2 separate regions of the Homo sapiens genome follow, and region 1 is linked to region 2. The links come from fine-mapping of genetic effects on gene expression. A gene starts in region 2. The other region holds a variant in brackets. All regions are shown on one strand. Distances are from middle to middle.

Region 1 (5,373 bases), 140 kb after region 2:
GCCTAATCAGCCATTTTTTCAAAGCCCAACTCCAGACTTACCTCCACCTTGATTGGCCATAAAACACATTGACCTCTAGCTTCTCTAAACTCTAAATTAATTCTGTTTTATACCACAGAACTTGGTGCTTGATCACGTTGCTCTGCTTCTAGATTAGCTCACATCATTCTACACTCAGCTCAAGTCCATCTTTCTTTGACAGGCCTTCCTCTAATCACCCTACAGTTCACTCAGCTGCCATTCACCTGACTTCTTCAGATTCCTAGAGAAACTCAGAAGTCTCTTTCTCTTGGCCCAATAACATAGAACAGTAATAGTTGATTCATTTTTCTATTCTCTGATAGAACGACAGCCCATTGTGGAAAGGGGCTGGGTCATCCTGCAGTTCACTTCTGTTCAAGTAGTGAACTTCACTTCCTAACCTGGAACATACTAAGTGTTTAACAAATGTGGATTACATAAATTAAAGCATGAATTAACCTTATCAAGGTTTATCTTGGTGCCTCAATTTTGTCTAGCATACATATTTGTGTTTTGATACCAATAAATCATAATATCTATATTTTTATTTTTTATTTCTAAAAGTTGATGGTATAAAACAGCATTGTATGGAGAAAAATAGAAATAGGGGATGTGAAAATCATTGAGGGAGGCATAATGAGAAGGAAGGAAGTCCGGGTTTGTGAGAGATGGAGGTTCTCTCTGAAACTAAGAGACCTAGTGGCCTTACCTCATCCAGTTGGCCGAGGATTTATCTTTTCCATCCACATACTCATAGCAGTTTCTCCCCTTGGTGATCTGAGTTTCAAAAAATAAGGTAAAGACTTTTTAGAGGGTAAAAATCCGAAGAATTATTTTACTCCACGGTCATCAATGGCCTTTGGACCTGCAGAGCTTCAACTGCCAACTGAGACCACATGGCATGCACCTTAGTCATCATCTACACATCTGAGTTGGTTTGTCCAATCAGAGCAGAAGCTCCAAAAGGGAGGATGCACTTCTTTGTCTTTGTACCACTCTGCTCCCATGTACCCTGTGATCTCTAAATAGGAGTTCCATGTTCATGCAAAGACCCTTGAGTACACAGAGCTAACCATGTTATCCCTACCTATATCCTAACATGTAGAAGGTGATGTCCCATCAAAGGCACAGAAGGGATGTGGGAAGACAGAACAGGGGAAACAGCAGGCTCTTCTTACTAGCCAGGAATATCCACTGTTGGCTGCCTCTTCGTCTTCTGTAATTCGGCCCTCATAGGGGCCAAAGTGCAGACCCAGTGGCAGATCAGATGCCTCGTTCCATACTCCAAGCCCAGCCTGAGGGATGCCTGATGGCCCAATTCTCAGCCCCGGGGGCAGACTGAGGGCTGAACGGTTGGGATGCCCCTTGTCCACTGCACTGTCCTTTACAAATGTAGGGGGCCCATGAGCAGCACAGCTGTCAATGAAGAAGTTCTGACACATCTCACAATCTGGAAGTGAGGGAAGCAGGGATTAGGAAAGTTGTAATGCATGTTCCTTGATATAAGAGCTTCAGAAAGAGCGTGGCACTCACATTATTTAGCCCCAATCCTGTACTTTAATTCATTCGAGTAAGGGAATGATTTGTGGGCCAAATGATGAAATTATTGTACCAGGACATAACAGCAAGCTGTGTGAGTGGCTGAAAGGGTCACTCACAGAGGTAGTCATCATCCTGTGGCTCGCTGATCTCTTTGTATGCATGACCCTTTCTTTCTCGCAGGCTATACATCTTTCCTTCAGTCTCCTTCCTCCTGAGTTCTAGGTTGGAGAAGAGTAGATGGGTAAAATTGGGAGTCTGGGGTGTTTGTCCTTGTTTCATAAGAAAATGTGAAATCTCCTACCATCAAATTAGCATCTACCTTTCTACATACTCTAGTCTCCCTCTGTTTACTGCTTCAGAGAGACTTAGACCCCACACCCACACTGACTGTAGATGCCTATTCAATTTTAGTTTCTAGCTGTTCTCATTATCCCATTAACCTCCCAGCCTTTCTGCTTACAAAATGGTTCATTCATGCATTTATTTATTCAGAAAATATTTTTTGAGAGTTCATTACATCTTAGGCATTGAACAAAGGCCTGGACATACAACACTAAGAAAGTATAGTCTCTATAGGGGATCTTCTATGTACTAGTTGACATGTGATGGAAAAGGAAATGTAGAAACGCACAAAAGAATATATATTATCAGAGAGGTACTTATTGGACACCTCACATGTATGAATTCATTTATATTTAATTTAATGATTTCAAACAATACATGAGCTCTATATACTTGGTCTCATTTTACAGATTACCATTCAGGAGCCCATGGAATTTATAAGATTTGCCCAAGGCCCCAATGCTTCTGTGTGGATTATAACCCAAGTGAGTGACTTCAAAGTTAATGATCTTACATGCTATTCAATACTGTATCCAAGGCTAGGCATGGTGGCTCAAGCCTGTAATCCCAGCATTTTGGGAGGCTGAGCTGAGCAGATTACTTGAGGCCAGGAGTTTGAGACCGGCCTGGTCAACATGGTGAAACTCTGTCTCTACTAAAAATCAGCCGGGCACGGTGGTGCACACCTATAATCCCAGCTACTCGGGTGACTGAGGCATGAAAATCGCTATTTTCGTGGAGGCAGAGGTTGCAGTGAACCGAGATCTCACCATTGCACTCCAGCCTGGGTGACAGAGTAAGACTCTGTCTCAGTGAACAAATAAATAAATAATTTTAACAAAATACTGCATCTAACTTCTGGTCTCACAGTTGAGTCCAGCTTAAGCCCAGGCCTATCCAAAGTCCACCCCACATAGGTAGACCATACTCACCAACCTTTCTAGAGGACATAGAGGGACTAAATTCCCCTCAAATTTTTTCTTACCCAGTTTTAGTCTAGAGTGCTGTCCAGAGGTACTTGCTTCTCCAGGAGGGGACACTGGTTTCTGAGCCTGCTCTGAGTCACTTGTATTCAGTAAATTTGGCGTTCCTGACAATTCTCTC[A/G]AACTAGATTCATTATTGAATGACGCCTTGGGCATTCCCTTTAATGTGAGAATCACATATTAAAAGACAACGTGCATTTATTTAGTTCTTTACGGCTTGCAACATGTTTTCATATGACTGTAGTTAATGTTCAAACCTTGGAAATACCTAGAGTGTCTAAATACTAGAGGGAAAAGACAAGGTCTAAGTGGGTAGTGAATCTGGGACTCTAACCCATGTCTTAAGGCTCTTTCCTTCAACTTCCTCTCAAAACGTTCTGTGTAAGTTAAAGGGAAGGAGGAAGAATACTTGGGAAGACTAGCTGGAGAATCAGCAAGATCTGTGAAAGAAGGGGATGAGGGCTTACAGAGAGAAGGAGGGAATCTTCCATAAACTAGTAGACTTTTGATGGAAGGGGAAATGTAGAAAAGCACAGAGGGACAAAGCACATCTGGAAAATGAGGTAATAGGGCAGTAAGGTTCGGAACAGAACAAAGAGATGATTGGCAAAAATATATCTAGACAACTAAGAAAGTGAAGTCAAAGTTGCATGTTGCCATATCCTGGAAAGAATATTTGGCTTTTGAATTAGATTAGTTAGTTCCTGTACCAATTCTACTTGTCTGCTTGAATAAGGGTGTATTGTTAGCTAATTTCTCTTTAGTTTCCCGATCCAGAAGTTGGCATACATGGTTTTGTTTTGTTTTGTTTTGTTTTGTTTTGAAAAGGAGTCTTGCTCTGTTGCCTAGGCTGGAATGCAGTGGCATGATTTCAGCTCACTGCAGCCTTCACCTCCCAGGTTCAAGAGATTTTCCTACCTCAGCCTCCCGAGAAGCTAGGATTACAGGCACGTGCCACCACACCCAGCTAATTTTTGTATATTTATTAGAGACGGGGTTTCGCTAGTTTGGCCAGGCTGGTCTAGAACTCCTCACCTCAAGTGATCCACCCACCTCAGCCTCCCAAAGTGCTGGGATTATATGTAAGAGCCCCCGCACCCAGCCCATGCTAATTCTTTTTTTTTTTTGAGAGGGAGTCTCACTCTGTTGCCTAAGCTGGAGTGCAGTGGCACGATCTCAGCTAACTGCAGCCTCCATCTCCCAGGTTCAAGCGATTCTCCTGCTTCAGCCTCCCGAGTAGTTGGGATTACAGGTGTCCACCACCATGCCCAGCTGATTTTTGTAGTTTTAGTAGAGATGGGGTTTCACCATGTTGGCCAAGCTGGTCTTGAACTCCTGACCTCAGGTAATCTGCCCACCTCTGCCTCTCAAAGTGCTGGGATTACAGGTGTGAGCCACTGCCTCCGGCACTAATTCTTAATATTGTAGTGAACATGAAAGATAATAATGTTCACCAAAGTGTTTTTTGAGCTACTTAATACAGTATGAATGTGAGATTAATAATTATTCTCGCCAGGCACAGTGGCTCACACCTGTAATCCCAGCACTTTGGGAGGCCAAGGCAGGCAGATCACCTGAGGTCAGGAATTTGAGACCAGTCTGGCCAACCCTGTCTCTACAAAAAATACAAAAAACTAGCCGGGTGTGGTGGCGGGCGCCTGTAATCCCAGCTACTCGGGAGGCTGAGGCAGGAGAACAACTTGAACCCAGGAGGTGGAGGTTGCAGTGAGCCGAGATCGCGCCACTGCACTCCAGCCTGGGTAACAAGAGTGAAACTCTGTCTGAAAAAAAAAAAAAAAAAAGAAAGAAAAGAAAAGAAAAGAAAAAAATAATTTTTCTCACAGACTGGGTGCGGTGGCTCACATCTGTAATCCCAGCACTTTGGGAGGCCAAGGTAGTAGGATGGCTTGAGCCCAGGAGTTCAAGACCAGCCTGAGCTACACGGCAAAACCCTGCCTGTACAAAACACATAAAAATTAGCTGGGCATGGTGGTGCATGCCTGTGGTCCCAGCTACTCAGGAGGCTGAGGCAGGAGGATCACACTAACCTAGGAGATGGAGGCTGCAGTAAGCCGAGATTGAGCCATTGCACTGCAGCCTTGGCGCAAGAGCCAGACTCTGTCTCAAACTACCCCCTGCCCCTGTAGAAAAATAACAAACGAAAATTATCTCATAGTCCTGATATATCTCTACAGTTGAAATCTAACTCAAAGATATTTTCAGCATTCCTTGACCCTGTTACTTATAGTTTAATTCATAAGCTTGGAATCAATCATTCAGAAAACACTCAGGAGGCTCTCAGAGGCCCTGAGCTGGGCTTGGGAGTTCTAAGAAGAATCAGGAAGGGACTAGACTCCTGAAGAGCTCACAATGAAGAGGCAGCAGGCAGGCTAAACAAATAATTCCAAATAACATGACAGTTCCCTAATTGGAGCCCAGAGGAAGGAGCTGTTACTGCCTTCTACAGGAATGAGCATTTGAAATT
Region 2 (5,373 bases):
TTGGCCTTCTCACACCTTGGGACCCTTCTCTCCCCTGTGCTCATGCTGGAAGCACAGCGTGAGGGGGCAAAGGTCATGGGAGGCAAAAGGCTGGGCTGAGGCCGAGGCTCTGTGGCTGTGGCCGGATACCAGGTCCTGTGGTGGTGTGGGCAGGGCGCGCTCTCTCCTCTGAGCAGCCTGGGGCTGCGTGTGTGAACAGAAACAGGCCTGCCGATTTGAAGATGGTTTGACCAAGTCTCCCAAAGCTGAAGAGAGGTCCCTGCCCATGTCCCCCGGGTGGCAATCCACAGACGCACCTGTGTCCATCAGACGGTATCGTTGATAGGGAGTCTGAAGCCACCCAGACGTGGTCTGTTCACGCCGTGGACACCACGGTCTGAGGCAGACGGTTACAGCCACCGGCATAGGCGAATCTCAGCCAGAGAGAGTGAACTGGGACACCATTCACGTGATGGGCCAGATGGGCTGGCAGCGGCTCGCTGGAGCCGTCCGGGTGGGAACGCTGTGTCTGTTGGTCTGGTGCTGCTTATGTGGCTGGTTCAGGTCTGTCATCCGTCAACCTGCATATTTATCACTGGTGCATTTTCATGTATGTTGTACCTCAATTAAAACATTTTAGGGCCGGGCGCGGTGGCTCACGCCTGTAATCCCAGCACTGTGGGAGGCGGAGGCGGGAGGATCATGAGGTCAGGAGATCAAGACCGTCCTGGCCAACATGGTGAAACCCCATCTCTACTAAAAAAAATACAAAAATTTGCCGGGTGTGGCGGCACGCGCCTGTAGTTCCAGCTACTCAGGAGGCTGAGGTATGAGAATTACTTGAACCCAGTAGGCAGAGGCTACCGTGAGCCAAGATCATGCCACTGCACTCCAGCCTGGGTGACAGTGAGACTTCGTCTCAAAAAAAAAAAAAAAAAAATTAAAGCAGATGGGGTGTGGGGGCTCATCCCTGTAATCTCAGCATTTTGGGAGGCTGAGGCGGACCGATCACCTGAGGTCAGGAGTTCAAGACCAGCCTGGTCAACATGGTGAAACCTCATCTCTACAAAAAATACAAAAAATAGCCAGGTGTGGTAGTGGGTGCCGTAGTCCCAGCTAGTTGGGAGGCTGAGGCATAAGTATTGCTTGAATCCAGAAGGTGGAGGTTGCAGTGAGCCAAGAATGCACCACTACACTCCAGCCTGCGCGACAGAGTGAAACTGTCTCAAAATAAATAAATACATAAAAATTATATGTATATATATATATATATATATTTTTTTTTTTTTGAGACTGTATCTCTGTTTCCCAGGCTGGAGTGCAGTGGTGTGATCTCGGCTCACTGCAACCTCCGCCTCCTGGGTTCAAGCAATTCTGCCTCAGCCTCCCAAGTAGCTGGGATTATAGGCGTGCGCCACCACGCCTGGCTGATTTTTGTATTTTTAGTAGAGATGGAGTTTCACCATATTACCCAAGCTGGTCTTGAACTCCTGACCTCATGATCCGCCTGCCTCAGCCTCCCAAAGTGCTGAGATTATAGGGGTGAGCCACTGTGCCCGGCAATAATAATTTTTTTTTTTTTTGAGACAGAGTTTTGCTCTTGTTGCCCAGGCTGGAGTGCAATGGTGCAATCTCGGCTCACGGCAACCTCCGCCTCTCATGTTCAAGCTATTATCCTGACTCAGCTGGGATTACAGGCACCCACCACCACACCTGGCTGATTTTGGTATTTTTAGTAGAGACGGGGTTTCTCCATGTCGGCCAGGCTGGTCTCGAACTCCTGACCTCAGGTGATCCACCCGCCTTGGGCTCCCAAAGTGCTGGGATTACAGCCCTGAGCCACCATGGCTGACAATAATAAAAAATTTTAAAGCAAAACTAAAGATTTATAAATTGTAAAATGCGGTTGTAACAAGTATTTACTGTACCAGTAAATATGAAAAATATTAATGTCCTCACACACATGGAGGTGGCTTGTGAGTGGTGTGAGCATTTCATGGTCAGAGTTTGGCAGTTGGGCGAGAGACAGGATGGATTTTAACTCGAACATCGCAGACACAAAACTGAAAACCCTGATGCGGTGCCTGCACCGTTGCCTCCTTTCCTGCAGCTGTAAATGGGACGAGTAATTCCATCCCCCTCCCGCTTCCACCCTTCAGCACAGACGCAGTCTTCAGCAAGGAAGTGCTGGGAACGCCCTGGAGTGAACCCAGGAAGATGCCTGCAGTGGGTGCCAGGGCCCCTCTCCACCGTCCCTGCTGGGCTTCGGGGCCACGCCCGACTGCTGTGAACGGCCTGCGGAGCACCACGTGCGACGGCTGGAGGCGAGAGGTCTGCCTTTGATGTGGCTGTTGGTGCAGGGCCTGTGGTGCCTTCCGCAGCGGAAATGGCGCGCCGCCCGGGGAGGGCGGGAGCAGCGTCCCGGGTGCCCCTGTGAGGATGAGCGACGAGATGACTGGAGGGTCCCTGAAGACCTCACTAGGGTGCCCCCAGCCGGTCCGCTCCCAGGAAGCGACACCCCCACAGCCCCAGGGCTGCAGCTGAGGGGGTCGCCACTCTGGCTGGGCGAGGCTGGGCCCTTGGGGGCAGGCGCCAGAGTGGCCTCAGGCTCTACAAGATGCCTGAAAACACCAACCTCTCCAGGGCTCACTAGCATTGGACGCTTTCACGCTCTGCCCTGGCCGGAAGCCCCCTCACCCCGCGCGATGTGCAAACTCCTGCAGGGCTCACTCAGTTTCCAGAACTTTAATTATTGGAAAGTTCTCCCTGGTCCAGCCCCCAAATCTGCCGTGAACGTTGACAGCTGAGTTGCTGCTCCATGCGTGCTTTGGCTGAGAGCAGAGGGGACCCCTGTCCTCCCTGAGCTGCTGACGAGGGGAGGGGTGAAGGGTGGGGCCTCTGGAGAGGGCAGGTCCCGGGGAAGCTCCGGACTCCTAGAGGGGCGGCCAGGTGGGGGCCCTGGTGACCAGGACAGACTGTGGTGTTTTTTAACGTAAAGGAGATCCGCGGTGTGAGGGACCCCCTGGGTCCTGCACGCCGCCTGGTGGCAGGCCGGGCCATGGTGGGTGCTCACGCCCCCGGCATGTGGCCGCCCTCAGTGGGAGGGGCTCTGAGAACGACTTTTTAAAACGCAGAGAAAAGCTCCATTCTTCCCAGGACCTCAGCGCAGCCCTGGCCCAGGAAGGCAGGAGACAGAGGCCAGGACGGTCCAGAGGTGTCGAAATGTCCTGGGGACCTGAGCAGCAGCCACCAGGGAAGAGGCAGGGAGGGAGCTGAGGACCAGGCTTGGTTGTGAGAATCCCTGAGCCCAGGCGGTAGATGCCAGGAGGTGTCTGGACTGGCTGGGCCATGCCTGGGCTGACCTGTCCAGCCAGGGAGAGGGTGTGAGGGCAGATCTGGGGGTGCCCAGATGGAAGGAGGCAGGCATGGGGGACACCCAAGGCCCCCTGGCAGCACCATGAACTAAGCAGGACACCTGGAGGGGAAGAACTGTGGGGACCTGGAGGCCTCCAACGACTCCTTCCTGCTTCCTGGACAGGACTATGGCTGTGCAGGGATCCCAGAGAAGACTTCTGGGCTCCCTCAACTCCACCCCCACAGCCATCCCCCAGCTGGGGCTGGCTGCCAACCAGACAGGAGCCCGGTGCCTGGAGGTGTCCATCTCTGACGGGCTCTTCCTCAGCCTGGGGCTGGTGAGCTTGGTGGAGAACGCGCTGGTGGTGGCCACCATCGCCAAGAACCGGAACCTGCACTCACCCATGTACTGCTTCATCTGCTGCCTGGCCTTGTCGGACCTGCTGGTGAGCGGGAGCAACGTGCTGGAGACGGCCGTCATCCTCCTGCTGGAGGCCGGTGCACTGGTGGCCCGGGCTGCGGTGCTGCAGCAGCTGGACAATGTCATTGACGTGATCACCTGCAGCTCCATGCTGTCCAGCCTCTGCTTCCTGGGCGCCATCGCCGTGGACCGCTACATCTCCATCTTCTACGCACTGCGCTACCACAGCATCGTGACCCTGCCGCGGGCGCGGCGAGCCGTTGCGGCCATCTGGGTGGCCAGTGTCGTCTTCAGCACGCTCTTCATCGCCTACTACGACCACGTGGCCGTCCTGCTGTGCCTCGTGGTCTTCTTCCTGGCTATGCTGGTGCTCATGGCCGTGCTGTACGTCCACATGCTGGCCCGGGCCTGCCAGCACGCCCAGGGCATCGCCCGGCTCCACAAGAGGCAGCGCCCGGTCCACCAGGGCTTTGGCCTTAAAGGCGCTGTCACCCTCACCATCCTGCTGGGCATTTTCTTCCTCTGCTGGGGCCCCTTCTTCCTGCATCTCACACTCATCGTCCTCTGCCCCGAGCACCCCACGTGCGGCTGCATCTTCAAGAACTTCAACCTCTTTCTCGCCCTCATCATCTGCAATGCCATCATCGACCCCCTCATCTACGCCTTCCACAGCCAGGAGCTCCGCAGGACGCTCAAGGAGGTGCTGACATGCTCCTGGTGAGCGCGGTGCACGCGGCTTTAAGTGTGCTGGGCAGAGGGAGGTGGTGATATTGTGTGGTCTGGTTCCTGTGTGACCCTGGGCAGTTCCTTACCTCCCTGGTCCCCGTTTGTCAAAGAGGATGGACTAAATGATCTCTGAAAGTGTTGAAGCGCGGACCCTTCTGGGTCCAGGGAGGGGTCCCTGCAAAACTCCAGGCAGGACTTCTCACCAGCAGTCGTGGGGAACGGAGGAGGACATGGGGAGGTTGTGGGGCCTCAGGCTCCGGGCACCAGGGGCCAACCTCAGGCTCCTAAAGAGACATTTTCCGCCCACTCCTGGGACACTCCGTCTGCTCCAATGACTGAGCAGCATCCACCCCACCCCATCTTTGCTGCCAGCTCTCAGGACCGTGCCCTCGTCAGCTGGGATGTGAAGTCTCTGGGTGGAAGTGTGTGCCAAGAGCTACTCCCACAGCAGCCCCAGGAGAAGGGGCTTTGTGACCAGAAAGCTTCATCCACAGCCTTGCAGCGGCTCCTGCAAAAGGAGGTGAAATCCCTGCCTCAGGCCAAGGGACCAGGTTTGCAGGAGCCCCCCTAGTGGTATGGGGCTGAGCCCTCCTGAGGGCCGGTTCTAAGGCTCAGACTGGGCACTGGGGCCTCAGCCTGCTTTCCTGCAGCAGTCGCCCAAGCAGACAGCCCTGGCAAATGCCTGACTCAGTGACCAGTGCCTGTGAGCATGGGGCCAGGAAAGTCTGGTAATAAATGTGACTCAGCATCACCCACCTTAGCCCCTTCCAGAAAGTGCTTGAAGTTTGCGGGTGGAGGGATGGGGGAGGGGAAGGTGGGCAGGGGTGAGAGTCGAGAGGGAAGAAAGGAGTCCCGGAAAACGTGGCTGCCTCCCCAGGTGAGGAAGCCACAGC

Evidence for each region. PIP is the estimated chance that this variant, and not a neighbour inherited with it, causes the effect. A credible set is the group of variants that fine-mapping cannot tell apart.
Region 1: its variant is the best candidate, but not a certain one, in a credible set for the expression of MC1R in whole blood (TOPMed, PIP 0.53).

What each region holds. Positions count from the first base shown.
Region 1 is chr16:90,060,722-90,066,094 of GRCh38, forward strand. It overlaps PRDM7 (PR/SET domain 7), which reads right to left. Exons shown (of 11, transcript NM_001098173.2): 6 at 2,891-3,047; 7 at 1,680-1,781; 8 at 1,200-1,471; 9 at 731-798. Among named protein-coding and RNA genes, the nearest start is that of PRDM7, 14 kb to the right of the region's middle. The variant A/G (reference allele first, on the strand shown) is at 3,010.
Region 2 is chr16:89,915,738-89,921,110 of GRCh38, forward strand. MC1R (melanocortin 1 receptor) reads left to right here and starts at 3,125. Exons shown (of 1, transcript NM_002386.4): 1 at 3,125-5,235. The coding sequence starts at 3,522. The coding sequence ends at 4,475. LOC124903759 (keratin-associated protein 5-1-like) reads left to right here. Exons shown (of 4, transcript XM_047435031.1): 3 at 2,139-2,310; 4 at 3,114-3,233. The coding sequence ends at 3,218. RefSeq lists enhancers at 1,894-2,779, 2,780-3,663, 3,016-3,065, 3,664-4,547, 4,548-5,373 and a silencer at 3,565-3,846.